2 separate regions of the Homo sapiens genome follow, and region 1 is linked to region 2. The links come from fine-mapping of genetic effects on gene expression. Tissue or cell type: whole blood. Region 2 holds a variant in brackets; the other region holds the start of a gene. All regions are shown on one strand. Distances are between the middles of the regions.

What was found. PIP is the estimated chance that this variant, and not a neighbour inherited with it, causes the effect.
Region 1: NGRN starts here. The variant in region 2 is fine-mapped to the expression of NGRN in whole blood (INTERVAL, PIP 0.97).

What each region holds. Positions count from the first base shown.
Region 1 is chr15:90,264,161-90,266,777 of GRCh38, forward strand. It overlaps NGRN (neugrin, neurite outgrowth associated), which reads left to right and starts at 1,512. Exons shown (of 3, transcript NM_001033088.3): 1 at 1,512-1,716; 2 at 2,128-2,238. The coding sequence starts at 1,553. TTLL13 (tubulin tyrosine ligase like 13) reads left to right here. Exons shown (of 15, transcript NM_001396017.1): 15 at 560-1,317. The coding sequence ends at 807. It also overlaps a transcript of CIB1 not described here. RefSeq lists enhancers at 524-1,495, 983-1,112, 1,473-1,702, 1,496-2,466.
Region 2 is chr15:90,232,045-90,234,798 of GRCh38, forward strand. CIB1 (calcium and integrin binding 1) reads right to left here and starts at 1,897. Exons shown (of 7, transcript NM_006384.4): 1 at 1,791-1,897; 2 at 1,625-1,659; 3 at 175-283. The coding sequence starts at 1,841. GDPGP1 (GDP-D-glucose phosphorylase 1) reads left to right here and starts at 2,165. Exons shown (of 4, transcript NM_001013657.3): 1 at 2,165-2,248; 2 at 2,478-2,552. RefSeq lists silencers at 1,390-1,839, 1,860-2,299. The variant C/A (reference allele first, on the strand shown) is at 1,487.

The sequences.
Region 1 (2,617 bases), 32 kb after region 2:
TGTAAGAATGGGGAAGTTAGGGTACCCATTTATTTACTCCTTTTTTTTTGAGACAAGGTCACGCTCTGTCGCCAAGGCTGAAGTACAATGGCTTGATCTCACTTCACTGCAAACTCCACTCACGGGCTCAAGTAATTCTCCTGACTCAGCCTCCTGAGTAGCTGGGACTATAGGCACACACCACCATGCTCGGCTAACTTTTGTATATTTTGTTTTTGCCACGTAGCCCAGGCTGGTCTTGAACTCCTGATCCACCTGAATCAGTCTCCCAAAGTGCTAGGATTACAGGTGTAAGCCACCGCACCAGGCCTATTTAATCCTTTCTGTACACTAGACCCTGGTGATAGAAATGGCAGAAATACAGTCCCAGCACTCAAGAGGTAATAGGAACATGGACAAAAAGACATACCATACCAATTACAATACAGTGTGGGAAAGACAGTGGAGGGAAGCATGAGATGCCCTTCCTCTGTGTTGGTAATTGGGCCACAGTTGGGAAAGAGGTGAACAAATCTCTTCTGTGAATACCAACTCAGGGACATCCATGTTTCCACTGCAGAAGGACAAGCCAGCAGAAGGCTAGAAGCCATAAACCGAGTCCTGGCAGGATCAGTGCCACCCACTTTAACCCCAAAGCAGGGCTATTTTCTGCAACCGGAAAGAGTGGCATCTGACTCATGGACTGAATGCACCTTGCCCTCCATGGTAAACTCTGAACACAGAGCAGCCAAGGTTCCCCTCTGCCCTGCGTCTGCACCCATGCTGCAGCGTTCCAGAGCACTCCTCAACATCAATCAGTTCAGGTAAAAGCAGGAGGGAAGCACTCTACCTCTCCTGGATAACCTCCCCAGGTTTCCAAAGGGCATTAAATCTTTGCTAAATGAATGACTGCCACCAAGTTCCACTTTGAAAAGCCCTGCCCAGGAACCCCATTTGTATAAGGCAAAATACAAAGACACCAAGAATTCCTCAATACCCTAAGATTAATTGGGGATCGGTAAAGACTAGAAGATGAAGAGGCGCCAAGGCCAGCCATGTACTCATTTCTGCTCATCAAGCCTTAGCCTGGGTTTATCGCTAGGTGATGGGTCTGAACCCTAGGTGCGGCCCGGGGCTGGAGGCCATCCAGGAGACAATGAGCCCCTTTCCCAGAGAAGCCGAGTGCCCAAGGCACTGGGCTGTCGCCGTCAGAAGACTGCCGAGCGGAAGCCCTGCCCACCGAGGTGGCGGAGACAGGCAGGCCTGGGCAGCCGCTGGGGCGGAGGGACGGCTCTTGGAAACGGAATCCGTACTTTAATTAAAGTTTATGCAGTTTTCCAGGAGCGTCCTGTACCTCATTTCGGCCCTCACGTTTCAGGGAAGCCCTCTCCACAGTTACAGGCAGAAAGGGTGGGCCACTGAGCAGCGTGAGCCCAGATCTTACCCCCACCAAGTGAAGCGGGAAATAACTTGCTACTACCCAGCCTCCGGCCCGCCCCTTCCACTTCCGGTCTTACCCGGCTACTTCCGCTGCTGTTTCGTAGCCGACTGCTGAAGGCTGGTTTGCGTCGACATGGCGGTTACCCTGAGTCTCTTGCTGGGCGGGCGCGTTTGCGCCGCCGTCACTCGCTGTGGGTTCGCGACCCGGGGGGTGGCGGGCCCAGGCCCTATTGGCCGGGAGCCGGACCCCGATTCCGACTGGGAGCCGGAGGAACGGGAGCTGCAGGAGGTGGAGAGGTACCGGCTTCTCCCCGGGCCCTCAGCTTGAAGCAGGGCCTCGTGCCCCGGCGCTCCAGGCCGCGCCCCCTTGGCGCCGGGTGTCCTGCCGCTGCTTGCGCAGCGGCCCTTGTTTCTTCTTACCCGTTGTTAGGGGCGCAGCGTCAGGTGTTCAGCTCCCCTGGGACCACTGGTCCCTTCATTAGTGACGTATTTCATCATCAGTTTAGAGAGTTCGGCATGCTTACAGGCAGTTATTGTTCTAGGTGTTAGCTTTCTGGGTGTACGGAGCAGCTCTAAGCCGGCAACATGGCCCGGTTGCCCTTGCGATCAAAGAGAAGAGGGCTGGGCGCTCCATGATTTAGCCTGAGGCTCTTCAAACATCCATTCTGCTTCCACGCATGGCTTCTGCCATTGGTTCTCTTCCCCCAGCACCCTGAAACGACAGAAACAAGCAATCCGATTCCAGAAAATTCGGAGGCAAATGGAGGCGCCTGGTGCCCCGCCCAGGACCCTGACGTGGGAAGCCATGGAGCAGATACGGTGAGACTCAGGATACCTTGTTTGTATCCGCTGTGATGAGAAGTGAAGGATGCTGGAGCCCAGAAACGGGTTTGGCTTTTTTGATACTGCTTTTATATTTTCGTTTACTTTTTGTCGTTGAAATTTATTATCAGAAAAGTAGAGTAATATAACGAACTTCCCTAACCCTGTCATTATCTAGATTTAATAGTGTTTTGTTTTGTTTTTTAAAGAGACGGGGTTTCGCTATCGCCTCGAACTCCAGACCTCAAGTGATTCTCCCGCCTCGGCCTCTCAGAGTGCTGGGATTACAGGCATGAGCCACTGCGCCCCGCCTGGTTTTAATAGTTTTTAACGTTATGACGTGGTTGGTTCATTTTTACTGAAATTTTTAAATAGT
Region 2 (2,754 bases):
TCTGCCAGGTGATTTTGGTAAAGTCCTTGCCCCTAGAAAATCAGAACTAAGCAGAAAAATGACCAGAGTGGGGACCAGTGACCCCATGATCCCAAAGCTAGTGGCAGATGGAGTTAGGGGGTCTAGCAGGGAGGGAGTGGTGGGAGAGGTGTCAAAGGAGGGGAGCGCTTGCACCTTGAGCTCTGGAAGGCTGAGAATCTGCTCGAAGGGCACTTGTGCCCGAAGTGACGACTCCACGCTCCGCTGCTCCTGGGGAAGCAGCTCACAAAACCGCCTGTGGGCTCTGGTAGAGAGAGGGGAACTGTCGGTGTTCTCAGCGATCGGTCTCCCTGTGTGTTCATTCCCACTCCTTGCCTGCTGCTCATTGTCAACCAGGTGAGGAGCTAAAACCACGTACACAGAACTTCCGAGTCATCAGGCAACGGTAAGCAAAAGGACATGTCACAAGGCAGTACAGCCTAGGAGTCTATTCTTGCAATGAGTATTTACTGAGCATTTACTATGTGCTTGGCACTGATTCTAGAGATCCCCAAGGGATGAAGAAGTTGGGAAAGGAGCCAGAAGTTGGCCCTAAAGAATTGGCCAGGCACGGTGGCTCACACCTGTAATCCCAGCACTTTGGGAGGCCAAGGCGGGCGGAGCTTTGGAGGTCAGGCGTCTGAGACCAGTCTGAGCAACATGGTGAACCCCTTCTCTACTAAAAATACAAAAATTAGCCGGGCATGGTGGCGGGTGCCTATAATCCCAGCTACTCAGGAGGCTGAGGCAGGAGAATCACTTGAACCCGGAGGCAGGAGAATCACTTGAACCCGGAGGCAGAGCCTGCAGTGAGCCAAGATCGTGCCCCAGCACTCCAGCCTGGGCGACAGAGCGAGACGCTGTCTCAAAAAAAAAAAAACGGAGAAAAGAGCAAAACCAAAAATCTCATTCTCACCTTCACTCCAGGGATCTCTTACCCTCAAAGCCTCCTTTTTAGCAACCACACTGAACTGTCCTCCTCGGCCTCCACCTCCTTCCCATGAGCTTATCTTTGCCACAGGAACCTGGCCTGCATAAATCCGGCAAAAGGGCTTCCAGCCCAAGTTCAAATCTACTTACTCAGAGTGTTGTCTTAAGCAGTTACCAAACCTTTCTGAACCTGTTTCATTGTCCAGTACCTCTCTCCTAAAGATTAAATTAGGTAACGCAGGCAACCATTTAGCACAGTCCCTGGCACATGGTGAGTGCTCAGAAAGCGATAACGGTTACTGTATTATTCAGGTAAAGTTGGGAGAAGGAGCCGGGCTCCCCAAGGCTTCTGTGGTTTAGCCACTGGGCAAGGTCGGCCCCTGCCGGACTGGGGCAGGAAGTTCGGCAGTGCTGAAGCTAGTGGAGCCCAGGGTCAAAGAGCGCCTAACTTTTCCTGGAGGCTGTAAGGTGGCTCCGCGGTGCCACGCTGGGGCCTCAGGCGAGGGCGGGGAGGGCGTGCCGGGAGGAGGGCGCAGCC[C/A]GGGCTAGGTCTCCCGGCCTCCAGCTCCCGCTCCTCTGCAGACCTCAGGCCAGCCCCCGCCCCTCCCTCGGGACAGCGCCCCCGAAGCTGTCTCTAGAGGATCCCGGGGTCGGAGGCAGGGTTCAAGGCAGCACTTACAGGAGGATCTCCTGCTTCGTCAGGAACGTCAAGTCCTGGAAGGCAAAGCCAGAGCGGGGATTAGCGGACCGCTGGGAGGCCGCGGCCGCCCCGCAGCCAGCTCCCGGACCCTGCTCCCGAGAAGAGGCCCGCACGCGAGCTCCCCAGGGCCAGGCGTCCCGCGCACCTGGTACTCGGCCAGCAGCTCCTTGGACAGGCGACTGCCCGAGCCCCCCATCGCCCCGCCGCGCGCACAGCTCCGCCAACTCGCCTCGAGACGCAGACAACTTTCTCACTTCCGCCCTTGGGCCGCGTCACTGCCCGGTCCCCGCGGCAACCGCTCCTGGGGCCACCACCCCCGGGCCCGCCCCCTCCTAAAAGCTGCCAGGCGTTCCCAGCCGGGTTTGGCAGGCGAGCTGCCGGCTCCAAGCGGTCCTAGGCGAGCTGGAGGCGGGGCCCGGGGAGGGGCCCGACGCTCCGGGGCGGAGCCCGGGACTCACGGCCCCGCCTCCGGGGTGGGAGGGGGGGGCGGGCCACGCCGCGCGCGTGCGTGCTGGCTGCGTATGCGTCACGGGCGTCATGACCTCGCTGTGGCCCCGGCAGCGGCTGCGGGGAAAGTCGCGAGGTGCATCCGCTTCGGCTGCAGTAGGTGGTGGCGGCGGCAGCCCTGGGTGGGGTCCCATAGGGGCATCTGAGAAGTCACTGGAGCTAGCGTTTCCGGGAAACCTGGAGACTCGCTGAGTGGCGGGGGTCGTCGGCTGCCCCTCTGCCCAGCAAGGGCTTTTCTAGATGTTATCATCAGGCAATCGCTGCACCTGTCGCAGCCCCCAAGCCACCTCTTCCAGAAGTAACCATAACCTTGCTTCCTTCTTAGGCTATTTACTGAGGACCCACTGGATGTCAAGCATTGTGCATAGTTTTCTTCGATTGTTGCAACATCCCTTGCGAGGTAGGTTCCCATTTTACAAAGATGGAAATACGTAAGTCCAAAGGGTGTTAGTGATTTTTCCGGGCGCCGGCATTTAGAAGGTAATCGGTCCAGTCCAAGGCACTTTTAAAGGCTCTCCACTGCTGTTCTCATCATTCCAGCTGACCTGCCGTCCTTTTGACTCCATCTCACCCCTAGACTGCTGACCCTTTGCTCTTGTCCC